Homo sapiens: one gene and its partner. The protein of the gene in region 1 interacts with the protein of each later gene in a biochemical or structural test. Each region holds a gene or a part of one and is shown on either strand. Other genes may lie near its edges. The genes, in order: NRXN1 and SYT13.

Region 1 (12,208 bases):
ATTAACAAATTGAATTACATTAACATTTAAGTTTTCTGTTTATCAAAAAAATGAAGAAGGAACAAAGGTTAATTACAGATGGGGGAAATATTTTAATACATATAACTGCACAAGCAATCATACCCGGAAAATGTAAAGAGTCCCTACAATTGATTTTAAAAGACAAGTAATCAAATTATTTAAAAATGGGCAAAAGACTTGAATAGACCCTTTTTAAAAGAGGATATCCTAACGGCCTATAAATACATGAATTAGGTACCTAACATAATTGGTCATCTGGAAATTAAAAAATAAAATGTTAATGAGATAGCAGTGAAACCAACTAGAATATCTAAAATTAAAATGATTGATAAATTTTTTTGGCCAGAAAGAGAGAAATTCTCACACACTGTTTTTCAGTGTATAAATAGTGACAACTTTGGAAATCTCTTTGTCAACAACTACTAAAATTAACCCATGACCCAGCAATTCCATTCCTAGGCATGAACCCAGTGGAATTGTGTACATATTTGCAACAAATAACATGTACAATGTTTATAAGACATTATTTGTAAGAGTCCAATACTGAAAACAATACAAATGTTTATCAACAATTGACTAGATAAATATTGGTAAATTTATAAAACTGAATTCAACATTGACAATGAACAAAATCACTGCTGCATGCAACATGGATGGATTTCACAAACATAAAGTTGAACAAAAGAAGGCGGACACAGAGTAGAACATACTGAATTATACCACTTATCTAGATAGCAAAAACAAGCAAAATTAGTTTTGGTAGTTTGAAATCAAGTTATTAATTAAATTTATGGAGGAGAGAATAGAAAATGACTAGAAGGAATAGGAGTTTAATATTCTAATATTTTATCTTGGTGAAAGTCATAAGGGTATGTTCATCTTTTGAAATTCATCAAGATCAAGACTTACGTTTTCTGTCTTGTATTATGTTATTTTATAATAAATACGTTTATTTAAACATACTGCCAGTATTAAATCACTAGAAATCTAGAATATTCCTTTTTTCTTATCCTAACATCCTATTTGGAAAGCAGGTTCACTTTGCACTGGTTACCAACTTGTCTGAGTTTGATGAGACAGAGCACACTCATAAACAACAAGTTACATGATGGAGATTTATTATTTACAAATCGGAAGCAAGGGACAACAGATGCCTGGGATCCATTGTAAACAGGTCCCCCAAGCCCCAAGAAAACTGCCTAGAATGGATGGAGCCTTGGCTGTGAGTGGCCCACTTGCCCCACAGCTGACAGACCTTAAAAGGCAGTCCGCCCTGGGTTATATATCTAAAGGGCCATGGAACTCACTGGGCAACAATTTGAAGGACGTCCTACTTCCTGGAGAGAGAGGAGCAAAGCCTGGGCTGTCCCAGGCAGTTAATTCATAACTGAAGATGTTATATTTCCTAGGGGGAACAGGAGCCAAGGCCTGGGCTATTTCACGCATTCCTCTCTATTTCAAGATATTGCATTCTCAGCAAATTCTGTCATTATTCTTGAGAACTAGAAGAAAAAGGCAGGGGGAACTCAGTGCATTAAAAGCTTCCTGGAGAATTGTCCCGCACTATCCAAGATTTATTTCTACCTAAAATGTATCGAGATGTATCTGTTTAGGGTGACGTATTCTTGCTGTCTCTATTGTGATTTCTCTTCTTATATTCAATTTCTCAAAAAGTAGACTCTAGAATAATGTCTGTATCTTATATTTATAGTTTTCTACATTTGAAAAGTACCACAATAGAATGGTACAGTGAACAAGAATATGGACTTTAGTTTCAGAAAGATTTGGTCCTCACTCTATCAGGAGCGGTCTACAAGTTTGAAGGCAAGATGGGTAGCATCTCCAAGCCATAGTTGGTTGAAAGACAAAGAGAATGAAAGTGAGAGCAAGCCTGTGTGTGTGTGTGTGTGTGTGTGTGTGTGTGTGTGTGTGTGTGAGAGAGAGAGAGAGAATGTCTAATTTTCAAGGTTGTAATGGATAAAGAAATATATATGTAAAATCATCTGCCAAATGGTCTCTTATAATAGTATTATGCATAACTATATTTTTCCATCCTCTATCATGCATCCTGTACTAGTTTCCCAGGTTTATCATAAACTATCACAAATTGGGTGGTTTAAAATATAACTGGGTGGTTTTTATAACAATAAAACATTTATTCTCTCGGAATTCTGGAGGCTAGAAGGCTAAAATCAAGGTGTCAGCCAGGTTGGTTCTTTCCCTAGGAAAAATCTGTTCCATGCCTCTCTTTGAGTAGTCTGCTGGTTGCTGGCATTACCTGGCATTTCTTGGCTATATAGTTATATCACTGCAATTTGTCTTTGTCTTCATGATTCTCTTTCTTATATCTCCTCTGTGTTTTCAAATGTGTCTCTCCTTTTAAAGATGCCTGTCACTGGATTTAGGGCACACCCTAATCCAGTATGACCTTATCTTAATTTGATTACACCTGCAAAGACCCTATTTCCAAATAGTCACATTCATAGATAAGGTGAAGACTTCAACATATCTTTTAGGGGGACAATTCAACTCCCAACATATATCATGCAGGTACTACTATAGGAGAAGCTAAGAGATTTGTCTCTGTTGCCATACAAAGCAAGTAATAAGGCTGCAGCTAGAAACACATATAACTCAGAATTCAGTGCTTCTTGTAACATACCAAACTACTCAAAACAATTATCTTCATGTTCTAAAGGTCAACTTTTAATAGCAACTGTACTGTTTTATCTATCCTATGTGCTTGGCTGAATTTAGAACATGTAAATCAATCTTTTGAAATGTTTACTAGAGAGAATAACCACCCATGATTATGAGTTTGCATGTGTACGTGTATACAAAGCTGTGAAGGGAACAAACTGGTAGGCTGTGTGCCATTTCCAACCAGCAGAGAAGTCTATTTTGTCCTGCACAGTATTGTGGTAGTAGTGGTGATTATTTTTTAATAAGCCAAGATTTTAAAATCAGAAGATTTTACATAACATTTCAGATTTCCAGCTGCTCTTGTAAAATCGTAGGATCTGGCAACACCAGACTCACATGGTCACAAGCTGTTGCGGCCGCAGAGTGAACGCCATTTTTAGAGAAGTATGAACATTTTAGGTGTCCACACTGTCTGCCAATCCTCATTGTTTTCCCAGTTTGCCTACCTCACTCATGTATGTCAAACACCAGACACTGTTAAGCATTGCAGTCTGCTCTCCTTGTTCTAGAGAAAATTAAAGTGCCTCTACTGTACTATAACTTCATTCAATGGGATGTGTACATCAAGCATATACTTAAGGATGTAGTTTATTCCTATTTCACTGATCTTCTTTCCTCAGCAAGAGAAAAACTCTTATCAAAATAAAACTCTTCCCTATTCTGCTTCACGAGTCTCTTCAAAAACCTAAGATTTTTTTTTTTTTACATAAAATGCGGGTATTATTGCTCTAATTTGTGAAGTTACAATAAAATATCTACAACTTTCTGTATTCTTAAGATATCTATCTCTGTGGGTGTCTGTAGTATTAAATGAAAAAATGTAAGTAGGACAAATGGATGAGAAAGGCAAACAAAAATGAGAAGAAAACTCTGAAAAAAAAATGAGGTTTAAAGCTATATTAAGTAGGAGGAGGGCAGTAGCTGGAAAACTGGTAAGAATTGAATATTTTTAAAAATCCATAAGCCCAACATAAAATCAAATAGGATGTGTTTTAAAAGCAAACCACAAAATGTTTCGAGATGCCATCACAGAAAATTGATTCCACAGATTTCTAGGGGGCAGAAATAGGCTAAAAAGAAGCAAAGATATTATAATAAGACTCTTGAATTTCACTGACATCCATAACTCATCACAAATCCCTTGCTCTTTTCTTAAAAGTCATAGTAAGGAATATTAAATAGCACTGGCTAAATTAAACAGATTAACTAGTTGCAGGCACCCAATAAAAATAAATTGGAAGCCACATTGTGATGAATGAGATAATTCCTTTTCTGGAGCCTAGCAGTTGAGAATGGCAGGCTTGAGTGTAGAGTTAGGTTGTGGGGAAGAAAGTTCTGTTCACAAGAAGAGAAATAAGTCATTAGAGGGGGTAATAATGACAGGCTGAAGTGTGCAACTAAATCACTGATCGAGGAAACATAAACCCTCTGGCAGGGACTTTTCACAGACTTCATCTAGCGACAGCTATTCTTCCTCAGAAAGATTTTTCCTCATTGTGGGGGAAGGAGGGGTGGAAGTAAACACAGAGGAACACACTCAGGTGTAAGTGCTGCCCTAGATTTAAAAACACTGCCCATCAAACACGCTGCAGGGTTTCCACATTGAAGCCTTTCTAGCAGGTGCATCGTTCAAAACTTAACTACTGTTCTCAAGGACCTATCTACGTGCTTTCTCTACTGCTGCTTGATACCTTAATAATTATCATTACATTAATGATTTGCAGCCATTTTAAATCACATTCTACCTTCTGATTACAGAAAATTTACATACTCAAGGAAAAGTAGCCTAATTTTACTATGTTTAAGATTTTTTCAAGTAGTAAGAAAGTATTTAACATACTGAGTTTGCTTATTTCTCCTGAAAGTTACTTAGTAAGCTTAATAGGAAATTATGTGTCTTTTTGTACATGTAAATCCTAGTCTGTTTATTCCATTTTATAGCTGAGTCTCAAACCCTAGACTTGATTACATTTCCTTGCATTTTTAAATTCATCTAGTTGTAAAATAAATTTTATATGGCAGCATGTTCAATATCTATTCTTAAACTTTTGTAACCAGAAAACTCTAATTGGTTCATATAAAGAAAACTAGAGACATTTAACTGCAAACAAAAAATGGATTATATTATTAAAATAAAGTCATGAGCTAAACAATAGAATTCCAATTGTGCAGCACTGATAATGTAATTGGTTAGAGAAATTTGATAGCAATCTGAAATTTAGTTGAATTAGCACGTAATATTTTCCTGATACTGTGATTATTTTAGTAAAAGTGGCTTCATTTTGATCATCTATAGGACAGTAAATAGAAAATCCCCTCAGCGATAAATCTTACTGTTTTTTTTGAGTTGTTTCTCATCTTAAGTGAAAATGCATTTAATGTATATCAACTGGTATTTTTCCTCATTGTTACCATGTGTTTCTTCTTCTACCCCTTATATCAGTAAAGCACCCTTCATAACTGATATCAATATTGGAATTCATAGGTATCTCAAAGCTTCCACTTTACCTTAATGTTAATTGAGAAAGTAGGTGTTTACATTGATTTCCTAATGTTAAAGCACAGGGTCTGATTGCAGCAATAAACACAGAGCATCTCTGCTGCATTCGTTTCTCAGTCAAAAAAAATCTTACTACTTAGTTTCATTTATTTTTAGTGTAGCATTAGTCTCCATGTTAGAATTCTCATTAATATTAATAACCTATGGAAATATACTTGCTTTAGGTGAGCATGCATTTCCATTTTCATTGATGCAAAATGTTTACCAGTTTATGGCATGAGATATTATTTATGTTTCCATATTTGGGTTGCCACAAATTCTCCCAATCAGACATAATCATAAACAAGCACCTTGATTTCGCAGTTACCTCATTTGTTCTGAGTGGTAGCTAGGGGCAGGAGTTGAAATCCTTAACATATTTCTGTAGCCTAAAATTAGTAGATTCCCTAAGGTGATTCAGGAGGAATTAATCCTACTTCCCACCTTCTAGAAAAATACTAGATTGTTCTTACAAATGTTAGATTGCTTCAAATTCAGATCTACAGGAATCACCTCACATCTTGCCCAGAAACAAACAAAAAAGGTAGTAACATTGAAAACACGTCACCTATAATATGTAACAAAGTACATGAATATCATATATTTCATACAGTATTAGTCATTAAGGAATGTTATGGCAAAATTCTGGAGTTGACTGTTTAGTTTCCTAGACTCCTCTTGATGAAAGTCTTAGAAAGGAAAAGGAATGAACAATTACGGGCATCTGCATTCTGCCAAGCACTTTGCTACGTATATCTGATGATCCGTTCAAAGTCAGTGTAGCAAGGGGGTTAAGATTACAGAATTGAGTTTGGATTTTTCCTCACACTGTTGCTTGCTTACTAGACTTTGACTATCTGGACTAATCTCTCTATGCTTCACTTTTTCTCATTGGTAAAATGAGTGAAATCCTAGAACCTACCTCTTAGAGTTGCTGTGAGGTTAGAATAAGTTAATGTAAGTAAAGCACTTGGAGCACTGTTTGGCGAGGAGTAGGCACAAAATTAACATTCAATGTTGACATTATCTCCACCAAGTCATATAAATGGAGATGCCATTATCTTTATTTTACTGATGACAAAACTGCCACTTAGAGAGTTGAAGTAATTTATGGAGAAACAACAGAAAAACTCATACTTTAAAATAAATTAACAACTTTTATCATTAAATTATGTTGTGATATTTGCATTCTAAGCTACAAACTGATACTTTTCTCTATGCATATTTACTGAAAAAAAAAAGATCCTGGGGCTGTCCACTTCCTTGGACTACATACAGTAAGTACCTTAAACCTGATTGCAAAGGGGATTACTCCAATACATCATCTATTCCTTCAGTTTATATAGTTTGTGTGTGTGTGTCAGGGAGGCAGTGGTGAAGAGATGTGGGAACACTGGTCTTTTTAATCTGAAAATTCACACATGCAGCATAAGAATGTCAACATTTTTTTTAAATCAAAACACCACAGAAGACATCTCAAGGAAAACCTTGATTCAGTGGAAACACTGTGTAGCCCAATTAAAGATAAAATAAAAATTCACAAAGACGAAATGAAATAAAGTAGGAAATTGTTCAGATCACATGCACTGGTGGTAAATAATGAGTTTTTATGAATCCAGGTAAAAGGCAGTGCTTTGACTCTTAAGAGTGCCTCTAGCACTACCATAATGTTCACTGATGCATGTTCACACCAGATCTTAAGAGCATCATGGAACCAAGTTAGACTTGATTTTTGAAAGTGGGCTGTCCATTCCACTTACTTTTGCAATAAGCTTTAGCTCTATACTAAACACATCGCGGTGTACCTTCTGTACTATTTGTCCTATAACCTAATGGTAGGAAAAATTGAAAAAGGCCCTGAATTAACTAGACTGTTTTTTTGTTTCAAGTTCACTGAATGAATAATTTAGATAAGTAATTTTCTGAGTCTTAGTTTTACATCATTTAAAATTAAATTTTTGTTTTAAGAATCATGTTAACAGCTATTATTTCATTACATTCCCAAAGCAATCTTATGGAATAAGCTGACAATGACTAATACCTCTATTTTATAGTCAAAGAATTCGAGTTTCAGAGAAATTCCTTCCATTGAGTCAAACAGAACACAGAGTGGGTTGTAGTTGATAAATATAGCCAAAATTCCACAATTTGGAATCCACAATTCCAAATATGTTATGTTTATTTATTCATTTCATCTTCACAACATCAAACACATGAAGAGGGAGCTATTATTATATCCATTTTACAGATGAGGTGACTGAGGCAGCATAAGATTAAGTATCTTGCTGAGGTTACAACTAATAAATGGCAGAGATTGAATTGAAGCTCAGACAATCTATTTCCCAAACATGTAACCACTTGACAAAACTGCCTCTCTAAGGGCGATAAACATATTAAAACCTGTGATACCCGCCTTCAGGTTATTTAGACCCTTTTACAAAAGTAGTGAAAGTATAAATCGGCTTATCATAGGAATGAGTTCTAGTTTTTTGGAAGAATATACATATTGTAATTGTAATATATATTATTTTGATGTTCCCAAATTTATCTAGTTCTTAAATTCTTGCTCTATAGGGCCTGGAGGCCAAAAATAGTCTTGCCTTACAGTATTTGAGGTTCAGACTATTAGGTCTGTGGCGTTGCAATAAAAATGTCTGTATCTGCTCCAAAACTAACCCAGGCTAGGAATATACAGGAATAGGAATTTAAATGTCCATAGGGTGCAAACCATAATTTAAAGCCACAGACCCCGAACTCCTCTACCACCTAATCTGTAAGCTCCCTTAGATTTAACCCCTTTCTCACCAAACCCAGCAATGCCTATTGGGCATGCCCAGTTGCATGGTTAGAGCCTCACACCCAGTTTTACTTTCACCAGGTTTTACCAGCTGCAAAAGGGAGGAGGAGACGGAGGGAAGAGTTAAACAGGTAGAAAACTTGGTTCAAGACAGAGCACAGAAGGCTGGAGAATGACGACAGGCTGCAGTAAAAAGCACCTTGTCAGACACAGTTGATCGTCGTCTGCAAGTTGGCATCTTACCCTGGTGGGTTCCTTTTACATCTTTTTGGCACAGCCTAGGCAAGTCATGAAGATTTGTTGTGATTACCCAAGGCAGAGCCACAGTAAGGGGTGGGGCAAGGGACATCGGATCTAGAAGAATGCCAGTGCCTGTGTGAGTCTTGCTTGCCCCTGCATTCCTCGAAAAGCTGCAGCTTCTTTTCAAGGGTTCCGAGCAGGAGACCAAGGTGCACAAGTAAAGCCAGAGCTCATCATAATTATCGACTCCTTGGCCCCTTCTCTTTGACTGCTGGACCCTTTCCTGGCACCCTCTCAGGTATCCCCGCCCAATCACTACCAAACCCCGGAGAAGTGGAATCTCCATACAGCTTTCCATGGGTCTAGCAGGGGCCTGGGCATGCTCAGTAGGCTACGTGGTTCTCTGGTTCGTGTTCGTTCGTTCTCTCTCTCTCTCTCTCTCTCTCTCTCTCTCTCTCTCTCTCTTTCTTTCTTTCCGATGGGGAAGAGAGGGTGGTGACAAGTTAGAAGCGCTTGCGGAAGGTCCCCGCCCCCAGGATCAGGCTCCCCCTGCAAGGGGACGATGCAAAGGTAAAAGCACCTCGCTCCGCAGCATCCAGACCTGGAGGGGCTGCGACCACGGGCCGAGCCCACCCATTCCCCAGCCAAAGGACGGGCCCGCCGCTCTCCATGGTACTGCGGAGAGCTCAGCTCCGCCCTTCTCTTTCAGAAGGACAGCACCCGGCGTCACGTAACCCAGCCTTCTCAGGCTCCACCACCGCCTTTTCCTTCCCAGCTCTTTCCCTCTCCTCCCCCTCCTCCTCCTTCTCCTCCTCCTCCTCCTCCTGCTCCCCTCCGTTGCCTGTTCTCCCCTCCCGCACTCCTGGAGATAGACGCTCAAGCCTGACGCCTCTGAAAAGGCAGCAGCAGTCGCCTTATCCATAGACCTCAGGAAATTCGCTTTGACCGATGCATGCTTCAGGCTCTGGCTCGAGCTGAGGGGAATAACCGGGCAGGTAAAGAAGCTCAATTTGGGTTGGGGGGAGGGGATGGGGCGAGGCAAGCTGAAGAAGGATATCTTTCCCCATTGTAACTGAGCCAGGATCTGCCACAAATACACAGGGAAAGATGGGTGGTGGGAGGGTGGAGGAGTGTAGATCTTGGTTGTTTTGCATGAAGCCTTTTAAATAGATGGCAAGAAGAGATGGTGGAACTGGGGTAGTAACTTAAAGGCTGAATGCAGTGATGTATTAGCAAAAGAAAGAAAATAAGAGACAGGCTAGATATCAAAGCAATAAAATATCTCTCCATATATTTCCTTCCCTACCTCATCAGCCCCACACTGTGCCCATCGTTAATTTGTGCAGTAGACCCCGAGCTCCAAGAAACTGCACTGGTATTAGAGATGGAGCTTAGAGACTGGGCGGGAAAGCCAGAGAGAATTTTGGCTGTGCATTGGTATTGAGAGACTTTGCAAAAGCCAGGGGTGAAATAATAAGCACTTCTAAAATTTCTCTCAGAGATTTCATGTTCTTTATGAAGATATATATATATATTGAAGGGTGCATGGAAAGGTGTAGGTGTGTATGTGTGTGTGATATCAGAAACATTAAAATATGCAACTGCAGCCGATGAGCGTACTGTATTGATCCTCCTAGTGACTTGGGATGAATTTGATTCTAGAAATGAAAGAAAAGATTAATGATGCTGTTAGTCTGCTTTTGAATTAGAGCGCTTCTTCTTTTGGCTGCAGTAAGGATGTTTTTCAGATCCCTTTATTTCATCCTCTAATTTGTGAACTGGCCAGGTCTTTCTGGCACCTAGAGAGAATCCTCTTTTCTCCATATAAATACAGATACTCGCTCACATACAATGAGCTTCCTCCAAGAACTGGGAAAACCAGTTAACCTCCCTGTGATAAGAATGTATATATATCTATATGTACATATATATTGCTCTACGGTTTTTCTCTCTTCCACCATCCCTTAAAATTGTCAAGGTGTGCATTAGTGGAGGAGGGCAGGAGGGACGGGAGAAAAAAGGTTATGTGATCAATGTAACATTAATTAATACAATAATTGGCTCCAACAGAGTTACACACACAAGAAAAAAAAAAAGGTTTTCTAACACATGAGCTTGAGAAAGGGTTCAAAGCACTACTCTTGATCATGATATTCCAGATTTATTTTGCAAATGACTGAAAATTTAGCAGATTCCTGAGTCCACTTAAAATATGAAAGTATACTGAATAATATGCTATTTCAGATGATTTGACGAGCCTCTTTCCTCGGGTTTGATATAGGAGAAGACAAGATATGACTGGTGATTGCTGATGGTGTGGAATGTATCAGCCATAATAAATAAGCAACTGAGATTTTTATTTCCTTTTGCTAGTGGGCAGTGTGTATGTGCGCACACCCACACTGTGTGTGTGTGTGTGTGTGTGTGTGTGTGTGTGTGTTGAAAGAGAGAGAACCAGTCATCAATTTCATCTGGGAGGAACTTGAAGTGGGATACCCTAGCTTGGTGGCTCTCAGCTGACACCTGTGGGGATTGCTCTGTACTGAAGAGAAATGCTCTCAGCTCCCCCCATGGAGAAGCAGCAGCACAATGCGGTGCCATAAATTACTGCTAGTTTCAGCTTGTAAGGGAAAAAAAGTGTTAATTGGGTAGTGAGCTTCTACATCCAGACAATAAATTTGGGGTGTGTGTGTGCATGTGTGTATGGTGTATATATATTGCAGTGTGTGTGTTTGCAAGAGGTGGGGAATATAAGAAATAGTGAGAAAAATAATGCACTTCCTTGACATGAACAGATTATACATTTGTAATTTTTTTCAAAAGGTAAGAGTAATTTTTTGGTTAAAAAATGACTTAGGAAAAAAATCAGTGATTATGATTTCTGTACCATTTCAAGAACCTGTCAGATTAGAGTTGAATAAAGAGAAGTGATTTAATAGTATAGTGAGTGATTCAAAGGTACGGTTTTAAATTCTAGCATCCTGGAGCCACTGCAGCTGAGATGACATACATGCCAACAGCTCTTCTGACCACACAAATTGTGAGGGCTGACAGCAAGATACAGACTTCAGGAGGAGTTAGATCTACACTTTTAGGCAAAATATTAAATACTTTATGCACCTTTAGAGAAGTTAATATTAGGGCAATTGAGACAATGCCAAAAACATAAATCTGGCTCCAATTAGTGGTTTTCTTTTACAACAGATTATTCATTAATATAAAGGAGAACTATACTTGTGTGAAATTTTGCAAGAGACTATCAAGAAACCATCAATATTCCTTCTAAGAAAAATAAAATGGCAGGAATGCTATACAAGTCTAAGCTGGCAGCTTCCTGCCAACAGTTTAATCTAATTTGCCAATTGTAAAATCTCTTAACTGAGATTTGAATAGGTTGTATTTTTACTGTCCACAGAACAAGCACACAACATAGGTAGAAATCCTTAAAAGCATTTGTTCTCCCCTCACATATTTTAAAAATTAAACTATCTTGCGAAAAGAAAAAGATAACCATAATCAAATTTCTCTTTAAAACTTCGGGTTACCAACTAACAGTTATAATAAACTACAAGGGTGTCATGGCTGACTGTAAAAGTGTCATATTAACTATTAGAAAATGTTAGGACTTACTTGTAGTGAGGATAACAAAAGCTCCATACAAGAAGGTTAACTCTTTGCCTTACTAATAGGACCAGGTCTACACTTGTGTTATGAGCTGAATAATGATTTATATAATACTATATTGACTTTAGACCTTAATTTTGACTTTAATTCTCTGCAGATGTCTGAGTCCTTAAAAAAGACAAGATAAAACCAAAATGCATCACCAACACACAACCAATTGATGTGCTGGCATCTTAGCTTGGCCCTGCAGAGGCAGAGAGAAAAGAAGAGGAGCTGTTGCGATT
Region 2 (16,426 bases), on another chromosome or scaffold:
TAAGCTGGATTCCACAGCCCTAAGCAAGGCGTGCTTCTGCCCCCTCCACTTGTCCTCAGAAAGTCCCACGCCTGTGTTGTTCTCCTTGCCTGCAGCTGTGACCAGCAACCACGACGGAGGCTGTGACTGCTACGTCCAAGGGAGTGTGGCCAATAGGACCGGCTCTGTGGAGGCTCAGACAGCCCTAAAGAAGCGGCAGCTGCACACCACCTGGGAGGAGGGCCTGGTGCTCCCCCTGGCGGAGGAGGAGCTCCCCACAGCCACCCTGACGCTGACCTTGAGGACCTGCGACCGCTTCTCCCGTCACAGCGTGGCCGGGGAGCTCCGCCTGGGCCTGGACGGGACATCTGTGCCTCTAGGGGCTGCCCAGTGGGGCGAGCTGAAGACTTCAGCGAAGGTAGGGTAACCCCTGGGTTAGAAAGGTAAAACCTGCCCGTGCAGCATGGGATGGCAGAACCTGGTGTCCTCCCAGCAACTCAGTCTTAGGGAACAAGCCTCAGAGACCTCCCTGGCTTGGGGCTGGAAGGGAGGTTGGAATCTTGAATGGGGCAGAGGGCTAGAGGAGACCCATAGCCCAGGATCTGGGATTCCTAGTGTCTGCTCCTAGTCTTGGCTCTAACTTGCCATGCAAAGACTCTCTCTGCCGTCATGGAAAATGCCATGCTGTGTGTATTACCTTTACTGCTATGAAGTACTGTCCCCATTTCAATCCAGTTATACTCTGTGTGCTCCTACGATGTGGCAGACACTGCAGGACACTCTACCTTCCTCCGTTTGTGTAGGTGAGCATGAAGGGTGGAGCCCCACCACTCAGGAGTGTACAGACTAGGGGACAAATTGGCACAGACAAATGATGACGATATTTGATGTGTTCCACCCTGAGCCATGTAAGAGAGACCTAACCAATGTGCTCTGATAAAGAATTCTAGAAGGCCCCGTGTGCTAGGCTCTGAAGGAGCAATCAGGGCTGGGGGCAGGCCCAGAGCCCGGTGGTCCATGCAATCCCCAGACTCAAGATGATTTCCCCATATCTGCTGTTGGGGGGCCACAAGTGGGAAAGAAGGGTCTTCTGAGATGCCACAGCCCTCAAGAGAGGGGACCCTTGGGGAGAAAATCATTGTTTCCCATGCGCCAGGACAGCAAGGGGATCTGGGAAGGTCAGGGCTACAAGATGGTATGTAGTTACTTAGGCCCCTGGGTCAAAGCTCATCTAAGGGCCTGCACTGTGGTTCCTTGAGGAAACCTTCTGGGTGACTAGTCTCTCAACCAGATTGGCAGTGCTATACTGATCTAAAGACTGTATAACCTGCATAGCCCCAAATAGGTGTTATTATATTAGCCCCTTTCCAGAAAATGTTTGACAACCCTCATGCTAAAGCAAAAAGCAAAATACTGATTAGGGCACTATTTTTTTTTTTTTTTTTTTTTTTTAGACAGAGTCTCGCTCTGTTGCCAGGCTGGAGTGCAGTGGCGCGATCTCGGCTCACTGCAACCTCTGCCTCCTGGGTTCAAGCGATTCTCGTGCCTCAGCCTCCTGAGTAGCTGGGATTACAGCCACACGCCACCACGCCCAGCTAATTTTTGTATTTTTAGTAGAGACAGGGTTTCACCATGTTGGCCAGGATGGTCTTGATCTCCTGACCTTGTGATCTACCCCACCTCAGCCTCCCAAAGTCCTGGGATTACAGGCATGAGTCACTGCACCCGGCCAAGGGTACTATTTTTTAATGCTCACCATCAGTTACTATGCTTAGGACTCTACCTGAGTGCTGCCACTCTCCAAATCAACCAGATGAGAGAGACACCATGACTATCCCTCTTACAGATGAGGAAACAGGGTCATAGCAGTTCAGGAATCCACACAGGGTCCCACAGCCAGGAAATGGCAGACCTTGAGGCCGGGTTGGTCTGACTCGAAATCCTGTGCTATCTCATTACCTGCCATGAAAGCCACCTGACAAATATGAGGTGTGACCAGCAGGCACCTTTCCTAATAGACACCCAGACTGCAGGAGGGAAGAGTACGTTTCACCCGCTGTCTGCTCCTCTTTTTGCTATGATTTCCTCCTTGCTCCATTTTTTCCTCTTTCCCAGGCTCAGAAAATTGTTAGAAAAATCACAGCCACTCTCAGATGGAACTCAGCTGTTCCAAAGCCCACTCTCTAATTAGTGTGTGATTTGGGACTTCTGTGGAATCACAGATGGGGATCCTGGGAGAAGGCATCAATACTTAGGATTATTAAACTAGTAAACTAGCTTTCTCTCGAGATGCAGAGACTCCCCTGCTGGGCTCTGAGACTTGGTACAGCCCCAAAGGGCAGAAATCCAGCCAATCTAGGCAGAAGTCTCAGGCACCTAGCAGCTTCTCTCACTGCCCTCTAGAAGAGCAGCCATCATTCACTCATTCATTCATTCTGCAAATACCTTGCCCAGTTTCTACCATGTGCCAGGCGCTGTGCCAAGAGCTGGGGACATAGCAACAGTAATTAAGATGAAGCCCTGACCTTGCAGCTCATCCATCCTAATAATTATCATACTTTCTGTAGCTGTTTCTGTTCTGCAAATATGTACTCACAACCACTTTGATCACTGACCTGTTTACTACAAATGTGAACAACCTCAGAGGGTGGCATGGAGTCAGAAGTAGGAGGTGACTTTCTGGGTGTATAGGGCAGGAGAAAGCTGGAAGTCCAGGCCAGGCAGCCCCTCGCCCCAGCTAGAGGGTGTGGGCTGATTTGAACAAGGTGAGTGGAGCCCTCAGTCATTGCAGCCCAGATGTTTTTCTTCTCTAGGCCAGATGGGTTAACAGACTTGCCCACGGTGCCCAGTTCTAGCTGGAAGATACTCAGCCAAAAGTGCCATGTGCATCAAGAGTGACTCACAGGGCAATCCACTCCAAGAGCAGTCTTTGATTATTATTATTATATTTTAAGTTCTAGGATACATGTGCAGAACGTGTAGGTTTGTTACATAGGTACACATGTGCCATGTTGGTTTGCTGCGCTCATCAACTAGTCATCTACATTAGGTATTTCTCCTAATGCTATCCCTCCCCCAGGCCCCCACCCCTGACATGCCCTGGTGTGTGATGTTCCCCTCCCTGTGTCCAAGTGATCTCATTGTTCAATTCCCACCTAAGAGTGAGAACATGTGGTGTTTGGTTTTCAGTTCCTGTATTAGTTTGCTGAGAATGATAGTTTCCAGCTTCATCCATATCCCTGCAAAGGACATGATCTCATTCCTTTTTTATGGCTGCATAGTATTCCGTGCTGTATATGGGCCACATATTCTTTATTCAGTCTATCATTGATGGACATTTGGGTTGGTTCCAAGTCTGCTATTGTGAATAGTGCTGCAATAAACATATGTGTGTATGTGTCTTTATAGTAGCATGATTTATAATCCTTTGGGTATATACCCAGTAATGGGATGGCTGGGTCAAATGGTATTTCTAGTTCTAGATCCTTGAGGAATTGCCACACTGTCTTCCACAATGGTTGAACTAGTTTACAGTCCCACCAACAGTGTAAAAGCATTCCTTTTTCTCCACATCCTCTCCAGCTTCTGTTGTTTCCTGACTTTAATGATCGCCATTCTAACTGGCGTGAGATGGTATCTCATTGTGGTTTTGATTTGCATTTCTCTGATAAGCAGTGATGATGAGCATTTTTTCATATGTCTGTTGGCTGCATAAATGTCTTCTTTTGAGAAGTGTCTGTTCATATCCTTTGCCCACTTTTTGATGGGGCTGTTTGTTTTTTTTCTTGTAAATTTGTTTAATTTCTTTGTAGATTCTGGATATTAGCCTCCAAGGGTAGTCTTGCATGGTTCACTAAGACCTGAGAGAAAGAGAGGGGCAGGGAAAACCAGGGAAAGGAAGAAGAAAGAAAGGATTACTTTAGTCTGCAGGTACTTTCAGCAGCAGTGCCCAGGGAGCAGGTGTTGAAATTGTCTGGCTATGGTGCAGCCGGCTAGGCTAGTTAGACCTCACCCTATGCAAAAGTGAAAAGCCCTGCAGAGGCTGACAGGTGCTGACTCCTCTCACCTGGTCTGTAGGTAGCAGAGGACTCAAGTCTGGTAACCCTGTGGCTATAGCCCGGGCTACCTGTGGCCCTCTAATAATCAGTGATGAGCCAGGAGGCTGGTGCCCATCCCAACTCTGCAGTCACCTCTCTGGGTGCCTGGTACAAGTCCCTGGGCCTCAGTTCCTTCACTGTGAAATGAGAGGGTTAGGGAGGGCTGTCAACTGAGAAAGCTGGAGAGCCATGGATTCAGGACTTAAGTTTTGCTGTCAGACTGGACCTCCTTTCCAAGGCTTGGTTTTGCCACTTCCTGCCTACATGACCTCTGGCAATGATGTTCCCTTTCTGAATCTGAGGTTCTTGTGCTTAAAATGGGAACAAAATCAGTAGCCCTCTTGAGGTTGTCATCAAGATTATAAATGGAATGTGTTACCCTTTTTTCACAAATGTTTATTGTGTGCCCACTGTGTCCCAGGTGCTGGAGTTGCATAGTGTGAATGGAGGCCACAGTGGAGCTTACTTTCTAGTGGGATGGACAATGTAATTGCACTTCACACACAGTGTTTAATAAATGTTAGCTGCTACCATTCATTTCATTGCCAAGATCCTTTGAGGCTCCCAAATCATTTCTTCATATGACCAGTCCCTCAAGACTTGTGGAATCATTGGGGTCATGCAGAAATGGAGGCTTAGAAAAGTTAAGTAACTTACCCAAGGTCATAGAGGTAGTAAATGGTAGGATTGGAACTCAGACACAGTTAATCTGGTTTAGAGTCTATGCTCTCAGCATTACTCTTATTCTGGGTTATTAATAATTGTTGTTTTGACTGTTGTCATTAGAATTGTAATTTATGACCTTTACTAAGAACTTGCTATATGCATTTTCTCACTTCATCCTCTGATATCTATATTTCTTCATAGCATTTAATGCTGCCCGATGTTATATATTTAATCACTTCCTTTCTGTCTTCCCCATGTGACTGCAAGCTTCTTTGAGACTGATTCTGTTTAGTTCATGGCTTTAATTATGGCATCTGGAATATAGTAGGTGCATTGCATATGCTTGCTGAATGAATGAATCCACTAGAGGCCACAGTGAGCAAAGAAAAACCGATTTCAACCCTTCTGAGTGCCTGGTCCAGGATGGATGAACAGACATCCTGGGTGTGACAGAAGGGGAGGAAGCTTAGGGAGTCACGGTGGCTGTTAGCCAGGGCTCCAGCCTGGTACCAGACCTCATTGAATTACCCTCATTGCACAGCTGGGAAAGAGGGACAAAGCTGGAGGGAAGGGCCACAGGACTGAAAGCTGTGACATCTGGAGGGACAAGCTTCCATGGGGCCTTCCCCCACTCCCACTCCCCACTCCATCTTGGCACAGCAGGCCACACATCTGCCTCTTCCTTGGGATTTCGAGGGAAGGGCATCTTCTTCCTGCTCAACAGAGGAGACTTCTGACCTTCAGCTGATCCCTGCCCACACACTCCCTTCTCTTTCCTGCCAGGTCTCCCCAGAGCTTGGATTGCAACCAAACACCCACCTCCTAGGAGGGGTCTTTCGGTCATTCTTGTCCCTTGACGGATTTGTTGAAATTCCAAATAAACTCCTGTACGAATTTCAGGAGAGTTACTCTAAAGCTGCGTGCAGGGATAGATGTGTTTGTTTGGATGCCTCACAGGGGCATCAGCACCTCCTTCAAGGTGTGGTTATTGCCAGTTGCCTCTGGGCATGATCTACCATCATACACCCCAGCACTTCATTGACATTACTTGTCATTCTGTTGATGAAGCAACCTCCTGGAGCTGGAAAGAACTATCTTTTCAAACATAGTAATGAATTACAATTCTCCCGCTGCCCCAGGAACCTGATGGGTCCATGCAGGGATTCTGAAACTGTTCTCTGAGGCCCTAGAGGACAGAGGTGTCCCAGGAGCTTGGGGGTGGCAGAAGGTGAAGGGTAATGGGGAATTCTGGCCTCCTCCCCGCTGCTGCATTCTGAGTAGCCTTTCTTTGTTCTGTTTTGTATGTTGGATTTGAGTATATGGTATATGAAAAATCACATTTTGAGGCAAACAAAGAAACTGCTATTGAAGCGCATGCCGCATGGAATTCCTCTGTGCCTTGCTCTCTTCTGCAAGGGTGGACACCCCAGCATTGACGGGTAAATGGTTTCAAGGATGCGTGTTGGATGCAAATCCAGCATGGTTCCAGCTTCAGCATTTGTTGATGGGTTGGAAGGCGTCCCCAGGTGAGACTCCCCTCCTGCATCTCCTTTTCTGTTTCAGGAGCCATCTGCAGGAGCTGGAGAGGTCCTACTATCCATCAGCTACCTCCCGGCTGCCAACCGCCTCCTGGTGGTGCTGATTAAAGCCAAGAACCTCCACTCTAACCAGTCCAAGGAGCTCCTGGGGAAGGGTGAGTGAGATGTGAGAGGATGGCCAAGGCCCCTCCAGCTACCGGGAGTGTGTGCTGAGGGAGGTGGTGCCTGGGAGGAAATGGTCACAGGTAAGCAGGGAGGTGGAATATGAGCACATCTACGGAGCCATGCTCAGCGGTGTTCTTCACCCTAAGTTCACAAATTGATTTTCGAGGACACACTCACTTCTATGAGTTCCCATCCATTTACTCTTGGATCAATCCCATCCATTAGGACCCCAGTGTGAGCTACCTGGGGTTCCCTACCTTGGAGATCCACTATGAGAACCATCAGCCCTAACCACAGAGCACAAGAAGCCAAGGGTCAGACTATAGCCGTGGAGTGAAGGGCCTGGGCTGTCGGGAAAACTTGGCCCAGCCCTTGTCACCCACACCTGGCTGGACCCACCTTTCAGGCAGATGTCAGGAAGGCCAGGTTATTCCCCTCCTGTCTGAACTCACCACCACTGCACTCCTGCCACCCACCCCAGTCTCTTCTCTCTTCTCAGCCTTTGCCAACTGCCACCCTCACACCAGCTGAGTGTGGGTGATGGCAGAAGGTGTGTGGGTACATGGGCTGAGGCCTGAGGCTTCAGGCGTCTGTGCCCCATATACCCAAATAAGCTTTTCTGCAACACCCTGGAAGCCTCAGTTTTTCCTTCTGGATACCCCAGCCCAGGTCCAGCATCTCGGAGACCAAAACAAGCTCTCCTATATGAGCAGGAAAGCATCCTCAGCTAGCCAGATAATACCTGGACTGGAAGCCACATGCGCCTAGCAAGATATAAATAAGTCTCTATTTATAGCAGGGTACAAATAAAGAATTGCCACTGCATTCTGAATTTCGAGCAAAAGACTTGGGGCTAATGGAATCAGAAGAGTTGGTCTTGCTGGCAGGTTCCTGAGTCAAAGGTCAAAGTTCAATGCTTTTATCTCATTCCCTTTAGACAATTCTTTGCTTCTTGCTCTCTTTTATAGCTCCTGTCAGGACAATTACAGTACAACACTTCGTCTCTCAACTCTCTCTGTAGAAATAACAAACTAACCTCCCAGAGGTGATAATTACAGCAATAAATACAAAGTAACAATTATTCTCACATTAGCTTTGGAAACATTGACTAAGTAATCCAGTCCAGCCTTGTGATGTGACATGAAAGCTCGCCTGGTGACCTGTTTGTGGATTTCCTTGGGGCCAGCTCTCTTGGTGCAGTGCCCTGGGTTTGGGGGAGCGTGCAGGAACAGGCAGTCTGCCTTCATCCCTCTTCCACATGAAGTTGGGGGTCTTCAAATAAAACTTTAAAAAGTACGGATGAGAAGAACTCAACCAACCAGCAGGGGATCTCCTATTTTGATAACAGACAAACATGCTTACACCAAGAATCAAGGGGATGAAGAGTTGGGAGCTGGCTTCATTTTTCTGGTCTGAGTTTAAAATCCAGCTGCAGGACCCCTGAGCTGTTGTCATGGACCTGGTTTGATGTGAGGATATGAAGTCATGTAGCAAAGGTGGTTCCCTCTTGGTACTCTAACATGCCCCAATCACAGGCCACCCAGTGGCCAGCCTTCTATATCATGGTATTGGCCGTTTCCTACACTTTAGTGTCAGTTCTATGGAGGCAAGAACTTCTGCTGCATCCCCACTTCTAGACCAGTGCCTGCCATAGGGTAGGCACTTAATATTTGTTGAATGAATGCATGGCCTAGTGGGGGAGTGGAGAATAATCCCCAATGCAAGGAAATGAAAGCATCCTGGATCGACTCCTAGAGTTATAGATTGTCCGGGTGGGATGCTTTCCTGCTGGTATAGCAGAGCCTTCTATGGTCACATAGACTTGGGACCTGTGCTGGGGTATCCAGAAGGAAAAACTGAGGCCTCTAAGATGTTTGGGTATATGGGGCACAGATGTCCGAACTCTTGAGCATCTTTCCAGCACCAGGAGGGAGCTTTGTCCTGGGCCCTGCCAGATCCCAGAAACTCACTCTTGTCCCTTCTCTCTGTCTCTTTTTCCCCTCTGCCCCTCCCCAGATGTCTCTGTCAAGGTGACCTTGAAGCACCAGGCTCGGAAGCTGAAGAAGAAGCAGACTAAACGAGCTAAGCACAAGATCAACCCCGTGTGGAACGAGATGATCATGTTTGAGCTGCCTGACGACCTGCTGCAGGCCTCCAGTGTGGAGCTGGAAGTGCTGGGCCAGGACGATTCAGGGCAGAGCTGTGCGCTTGGCCACTGCAGCCTGGGCCTGCACACCTCGGGCTCTGAGCGCAGCCACTGGGAGGAGATGCTCAAAAACCCTCGCCGGCAGATTGCCATGTGGCACCAGCTGCACCTGTAACCAGCTGCCCAGCTGCCTCCCTTCTTGGACAGCCCTGACCCGTCCTCTGCAACCTCCTTTCTGTGCCCCTTTCCTCATTCTGACACCCAGAAGACAGTGACAGATGTGTTTGCAAGGCTGGGATGGCTCTCTCATCATACTCTTGTTTCTTAGAAATAAGCAAGACAGAGCAGGAAATGGAATATGCGGGTCACACTGAGGAATGCATTTTGCTCATCTGTGTTATTGAAGGAGGTGCTTATTAAATACAGTTCCTATGCCTGTTTTATAGGTGGGGTTAGGCCAGATGCAGAGAAAGCTAAATGTGGGAATCATGGATGCAAAGAAGAATTTGGCTTTTTGAAAAACAAGCATTTCAAAAATGATGAAGGAAGTGAAAGTATCCTGGATCAACTCCTAGAGTTAGAGATTGCCCAGGTGGAAAGAAACCTTAGCCAGCGTTCAATCAAGCTCACCATGCAGGGCAGTCACCCGGCAGTTCTCAAACTTTAGCATGTGAAGAGTCACCAGCAGATTCCTGGGCTCGCCTGGAGACATTCCTAGTCGGTATTCCTGGTCGAAGCCCAGGAGCCTTCCTTTTTAACAAGCTGATGTAGAGGGTGGAGCACTGTATGTGGAGAAATTCCTTCTACAATATTCCACACAGGTTTTTGGCCACAGTCCTTGATGGAGTCCCAAAACCATGGTGCAGCCAGTTCCAATGCTGGACACCTCAACCATCAGGGTGAAATCTGGGGCCTCAGCTTTTTAATTTAATTATTTTAATTCTTAATACTTTAATTTGTGCATTTCATAAGCCCCCTGCTCTTGGACTGAATTTTGTGCTTTTTATTGAAGAATTTTATTGTTTTTATCTTAAAATCAGTTTCTATTATCCTTGGGGAGACCATCCCTAACAAAGTACAGGTGGGATCTCCTGTGAGTCATTGGCTGGGTTCTGATTGCTAGATGTCACACCCACCAGCATCACCAAAGTGACTCTGAGATAGACCGGTCCCTTCTCAGCGTTCCAGTCACTTCAGGAGGAATTTAGTTATTGACTTAGTCTATGACATCTGGCTACATGTAGGTAGAGAAGAAAGATAATTTTAAAAAGGAAATCAGGTCTTTTGCAACTGTGCCTCCCTCTGTCTGTTTTCACTTGAATGGGTAAATAACCAGCAGCTAGGTTTTGAATTCCTACCTTGTTATTCTAAACAGATGTCCACATTGTTAATTAAATCTAAATTATGAGCCTTGCTGAGTGGATACGGTACTTACACCTGAACCAGGATTCCTGGGTTCTGTTGTTGACATTGCCCTTCAGCACCTGTTTGGCCAGCTGTGTAAGATAGGACTAATGACTAGGAAGCCTACCCCAATGAATGATATACTAGATGAAATAGTGTTCAAAACCTGTAGGCACTCTCTGGCTAAAAACAAACTCTGAGGCCACCAGCAGATCATCTTTAAGCTAAGTTACTATTTTTCACCTTTTTTTTTAGACGGAGTTTTGCTCTTTGTTGCCCAGGCTGGAGTGCAGTGGCACGATCTCGGCTCACTGCAACCTCCGCCTCCCAAGTTCAAGCGATTCTCCTCTCTCAGCCTCCTGGGTAGCTGGGATTACAGGTGCCCACCAACATGCCTGGCTAATTTTTGTACTTTTAGTAGAGATGGGGTTTCACCATGTTGGCCAGGCTGGTCTTCAACTCCAGATCTCAGGTGATCTACCCTCCTCGGCCTCCCAAAGTACTGGGATTACAGGCCTGAGCCACCGCGCCCGGCCTATTTTTCACTTTAATTTGGCAGCTGAGAATGCCCAGAAAGTGCCAGAAGCATCGTGGCATTTCCAGAACCATGGATTCTGCCTTTGGACCCCTCTCTATTAATATTAAAACTCTGGGCCTTCAGATGTCACCCTAATCCACTTCCCTAAGACAGAATTTCTGGACAAGATGGGTAAGGGCTTCATTCCTTCAACAAGTCAAGTCATACTTGGCCTCTCCCTGAGAATCTGAGCAGGAGCCTTATAACCTGTGGTCATTATTTTTTCTTTCTGTACAGAAATAGAAAAGCATTAGAAATAACTTCTAACCATCCTCTGAAAAAACAGAAAAAATATCGAATCCCTCTTTCATGAGAAGTCTTTTGGATAATTGGAAACCTTCATCACTGAGGTTGGCCAGCCCCTGCCAAGTGTTGTGTAGGCAAAGCACTTGTTAGTGGCTTCCTATGAAATGTTTTAGAGATCTCTTCACCATACTGGTTTCTTCTCTTTGGTTGGTGTGGGTAAAAGAAAACAAAACATTTCCTATAAGCTGAAAGCTGACCAGCATTCTCTTCTTGGTAACATCTACTACTCCAATCTAGAAAATTTGGATTCTAGACCAAAAATCAGGAAACATGGCTCCTTATAAATCTGTGCAGCTGCCTTATAGTACCATCAAAGGAATTTCAGGTGGGCTGGGCGGGGCCCCGATCCCAGAATTATCAACTCCACCCATCATCATTTGGTCATGAAGCATCCTTTCATTCTTCTTCTTCTTTTTTTTGGGGGGGCGGGGCGGGGGAGGGATCTCAAAGTTTTAGTCTTCCAGAATCCAAATTAAAGGTTGCCCCTGATGGGGGCCAGGTTCCGCCACAGAACATCTTAGATGTCAGCCTTGACCTCACTTAGCAGGGATTACAGAAATGAGATACATTTTGAAGGAGAGTTGTCTGTTATGTTCACTGTATTCTAAGTGCCTGGGATAAAGCTGTCTCATGGGTGCTCCATATATATTCATATATATTTGTTGAGTGAATTAATGAATTAAGAGTGGCTGGCAGAGTAGGCAGAAAAAGACACTGCAAATGGCATAAAAATTAAAGTCCTAGCTGAGTTCTCAATGGTAAAGGCATCAGATGTCTTAGCAGTCAAGCTAGAAATTCATGACAATGAGTATTACTATTTGCCTAATGGCAACTCATTGCTCTCCATGTAAATGTAATCAACAGATGAAGAGAATATAATTGCTCTGCTTTTCCACTAAAACTCCATCTTAGTGAATTTTAAATTATCCAGAGATGTCAAACTGCCAAATAAAAATATTTCAGTAGTCTTTGCATCAGCTTACCTTGTACCAGAAACATTTCCAATTTACTATCAAATTATAGTAACTGAGCCTGTGTGAAGTATCTCATCATTTTCGAAAGGAACACCTTGTGTGATGCCAGTGAGCATTTCTAAAAAGGGTGTGAGGTAGAGGTAAAAATAAGGTGAGAGACCATTTCAGAATGCACTGTTGCTCAAAAAGGTGATCTGGTTCTTTCTTCAGAGATTTCTACGGGGATAGAAAATCGGGAGTCTGCCCTCATTAATCTGTGATTCCACCTCTTGCACCAAATCAATATCTATTTGTTGAGCACTTATTGATTAAGACCTTGCATATGTCTGTCCATTTTGATTTGAGATACAACTTTTTGTGTGGGTTGAATGACAAATCACTCCAAACAAAGCTGGGCACAGAGAATCAGCTAGGAGACCAGTTATTCAGGGTCCATTTCTCTTGGATGTAAAGGAGTCCTGGGTAAAATGTGGCTGTAACCTAAACCAACTAGTCCTTGTGATTTGTTTCTGCCCTCTGTGTTTCCTGTTGTCAAATGCTAAGTGTGTGTTTTGCAGTCATGAACTAAAGCACAAAAAGATGCATGAGACATTGTAGTCATATGTCTGGTGTGACACTTTGGAGCAAAAACCTTGCAGTGGTAAATAAAAAATTTCCAACAGGGTCAGCTGCCTGGTGTTTTCTTTTTTTCCGTTTTACCTAATATTTTGGCATATAAAATGCAGAAGAAATCATCTGATAAGCACTTATGAGCCACTGCCATGTTTAATAAAACTTGACAACTACAATTGAAGTACCCTCAGTGCCCTTTACTCAGAAGACCATGACCTTGGATTTGGGGTTTATCATCCCAGGCATTCCCTCATACTTTTATTACATGTCTCTGTAAGCCCTGAGTTCCATAAAGTGTTTTTAAACTTCATTTAAATTGTATCACACTATTTTCACTCAACATTAAATATTTCAGTTTCATCTGTGCAGACACATGCAGCTCCAGTTTATTTCTTTTTCACTGATGTATGATATTCCATTGTATGGATATGCCACAGTCCTATGCAGTTGATGTATATCTACATGTTTCTTTTTCTTTTTTTTTTTTTTTACTGTTACAAGAAATGCTGCTATGACATTCCTCTGCATGTCTCCTTGTGCGCTTGTGTGAGTTTCTCTAAGATATATACCCAGGAGTGAGTCATAGAGTACTCTGTGCATGTGCATGTGTGTGTACCTTGGTGGCCTTGCTTGAGTACTGAATCAAAGAGGCTACATACAATTAGGAATGCCAAGGTTGGGTGAAGCTTTTCAGGGATTTGGCTTCATTGCTGGGGAGAAAAATTTGGTGGAAACTACTAACTTCTCTTTCTTTAACATTCCCCAAAGAAATACTCCATCAATGGAAGGGTCTAGTAGCAGCCAGTGGTACTCATGAACTCCTGGTGGCAAGCAGGGACAAGGGCACTCCTGGAGTCCTGTCATCCTAAGCCTTCCTGGTGGCCACTACAGCCCTGGCCTCTGGAGGAAGAGGGATTAAGCAAGGGGCAGAGCCTGAATTTTCAAGCTAGTAGAAAATTAGCCAGGTCACACAGAATTAAAATAGAAGGTTCTTAAATAGGATAAACAATCCATAAAGAAAGCCATGAGATGTCGTTGCTTTCCAAGTCTGCACATAATTCCCTATTTTATATTATGTATACACATACATTCTATTGTAATGGCAACTAGCATTTAAATTTTCATAATAAAGTAGGATCAGTTGGTTTTATCCCACATAGTCGAATGTTATGCAGACTATGTTTCACAGGTAACTATGAATATGGCCCACCTGAACCCAAAACTCATACTTAAGAGTCTGGATTGATGTAAAAGAGAAATGGAAGAGGGAAGCAGAGTTCATGAGTCACTTTATACATGGACTTTCCATTGAAATGCTTCGAATAACAAGCACTGTTCCTGCGTATAAAATTGACTCATGTCTAGAGCATTGCCTCAGAAGCTGGGAATCTGCAACCCGGCTTGGCTTTGTGACTGACCACTGTAAAATGAATTTGGAGCAAATGATCACTAAGGCTCCTTCCAGCTTTAACATTTTGTGATTCTATGACCTAGACTGTCAACAGCTTTGGCTCCTTCCAGCTTTAACATTTTGTGATTCTATGACCTAGACTGTCAACAGCTTTTTTTTTTCTTTTTTAGACAAGGTCTGGCTCTGTCACCCAGGTCAGAGTACAGTGGCACAATCTAGGCTCACTGCATCCTTGACCTCCCAGGCTCAAGCAATCCTCCCACCTTAGCCTCCTTAGTAGCTGGGACCACAGGCACATGCCACCACACCCGGCTAATTTTTTGTATTTTTTGTAGAGATGGGATTTTGCTACGTTTTGCCCAGGCTGATCTCAAACTCCTGGACTCAGGCGATCTGCTCACTTTGGCCTCCCAAAGTACTGGATTACAGGTGTGAGTCACCACACCCAGCCAACAACTTACTTTTTACACATACCTTTAGCCTTCTATCTTGTGCATAAAACAAATTAAACCTACATACATGTGTACTTGCCCTCCCTGCCCCATGCCTGCCTGGCAATGTCCCCCGGTATCTCCTGACACTCCCTCCTGACAGCTACCCACTCCTCTAGACAACCTGAAATGGCACCTGAGGCTTCAAGTCAGCCTCTTCTCATTTGCTTAATTGCTAATGGAGCTGGTGGTAATTTTCCATCCAAGAGTTTCATTTTTTTTTTTTTTAGAGCCAGTTGGAAGCATCACCATTTCAGGAGCTCTGAACTCTAGCATCTGTTCTGTCTCCCTCCTGAGGCAGACGCCTGGCAAGGATAAAGCCACAGGATGTGGCTGTGGATGGATTTAGGGAGCTGGGCATTTTCTTAGTCCAAGTGTTGGAGAACTGTCCCCTTGCTCCACTTCCTCATCTCCTGCAGGTGAGCCAGCACAGATGGCCCCTGGCAGGGACCTCAGCAGCTTCCTCAAGCCAGAGAAGAAGACCCCTACCTTGGAGGAGGATGGGAGGAAGCCAGACTTTCTCCCAGATAGGCGCCTCCATCTCTAGAAGCCAGACGTTGCCATGGAAACTGAGCTACTGGTGGCCACTGTGTGATTTGGCCCCTGTGCTCGCTCATCCCCAGCCAGGTTTGGTCTCCTGTCAGTGCAGCCTATCCATGCTAGGGCATATAGTTCCCCAGCTCAGTTTCCCAGTGCCCTTTCTTGGTGTTTCAGGACAGCCTGTTGGCAAGTGAGCAATGGCAGAAATCCTGTTTCAGAAACCTAGGGATTACAACCAGGGACAAGCAAGGAGGAACCTGCTTTTCTAGCCAGAACAAACAGAACCTCTCTGCAGTCCCTTTCTCGGGGGCCAGGTGAGATGAGCTGCAGGAAGCAGAACAAGGTGCCCTGAGGATCTCTCTGAGAGGGGAATGGTGATTCCCATTTAGGTAGAGGCATCCACGCCAGTTGAAGATGTAAGTGGCTCTGTATTAAAAGTCACCCCAGGCAGCCCCAGGGATTCTGGATGAAAGAGGATGGCAGCAGGAAACCTTGACGCTTCCTAGCACCTCATTCACCCTGATCTTAGCGGTCGCAATGAGGATGATAATGATAATCAGCACCTAGTAAACCATGGCTCTGGGCTAAGCACTGAAGAGATAGAATAGGATAAGTGACTCATCCAAGGTCCCATAGGTTGAAAGAGGCACAGGAGGATTTCAGTCTGGGACGGTCTAAACCTAAAAGGTCTAGGCTCTGGGGTACAGCCAGTAGCCCAGGGTCTTTATTGGAAGATCACTTACATGCATAGGCAGTAGCTTAAAAATGCTACTTGGAAGCATGAACTCTGAGAATCACCAAGCTGGAAGGAACTGGAAAAGTTCTCTTTCCTATAGGAACTAGGAGGCACCTGGCTGGATTGGGCAGAACATTGTCCAAGGGGCAAGAGCAAGTTGGAATGGAGGGGAACTCAAGTGAGTACCATGGGAACAACCTCCAGCTTTGTGGAGTAGGGGCTGGGTCAAGGTTAGATGCAACCAGAGGTCAGGCGCAGGGTCTTTCTGATCAAGGAAGGAAACCAAGATAGAGACAGGCAACATGGAAGAACCTAGGACCTCAGCTGTGACCAAGACAGCATTGCAGGAGTTGCACTTCTATCAGGAGTGGCTTAAGTTCATTCACCCCTTCAATACCCACTGATTAAATGCCCACTATGTAGCTTTTCCCTTGTGGGTGTTACCATATGGAAGGGGAAGACGGACATAAAACAATCTCTGTCTTTCTCTATCTCTCTCTGTCTGTCTCTCTCTCTCTCTCACACACACACACACACACACACACACACACACACACACACACAGAGTAATTATACAGTTTAGATAGGCTGGCCAGGAAAGACCCCTTTGAGGCTGCATTTTAGATGAGACCTAAAAGAGGAGAAGAGTTCAGTCATGTAACCATCTGGGAAAGCTATCCCAGGCAGGGGGCTCATGGCATCAGAGGATCCCGAGGTAGAAAAGAGCTTAGTGAGTTGAAGGCAGTGTGGCTGGAGCCCAATGCAGGGGAGGACAAGATGAGGC

Evidence for each region.
Region 2: the proteins of NRXN1 (region 1) and SYT13 form a complex in vitro, tested with the Homo sapiens proteins (one study listed by BioGRID).

What each region holds. Positions count from the first base shown.
Region 1 is NC_000002.12:51,029,068-51,041,275, reverse strand, and holds the start of NRXN1 (neurexin-1 isoform alpha4 precursor), read left to right. Parts: upstream 1-9,143; 5' UTR 9,144-9,295; intron 9,296-12,081; 5' UTR 12,082-12,208.
Region 2 is NC_000011.10:45,236,392-45,252,817, reverse strand, and holds the end of SYT13 (synaptotagmin-13), read left to right. Parts: intron 1-95; coding exon 96-397; intron 398-6,305; coding exon 6,306-6,435; intron 6,436-8,461; coding exon 8,462-8,766; 3' UTR 8,767-12,516; downstream 12,517-16,426. UniProt on the Homo sapiens protein: May be involved in transport vesicle docking to the plasma membrane.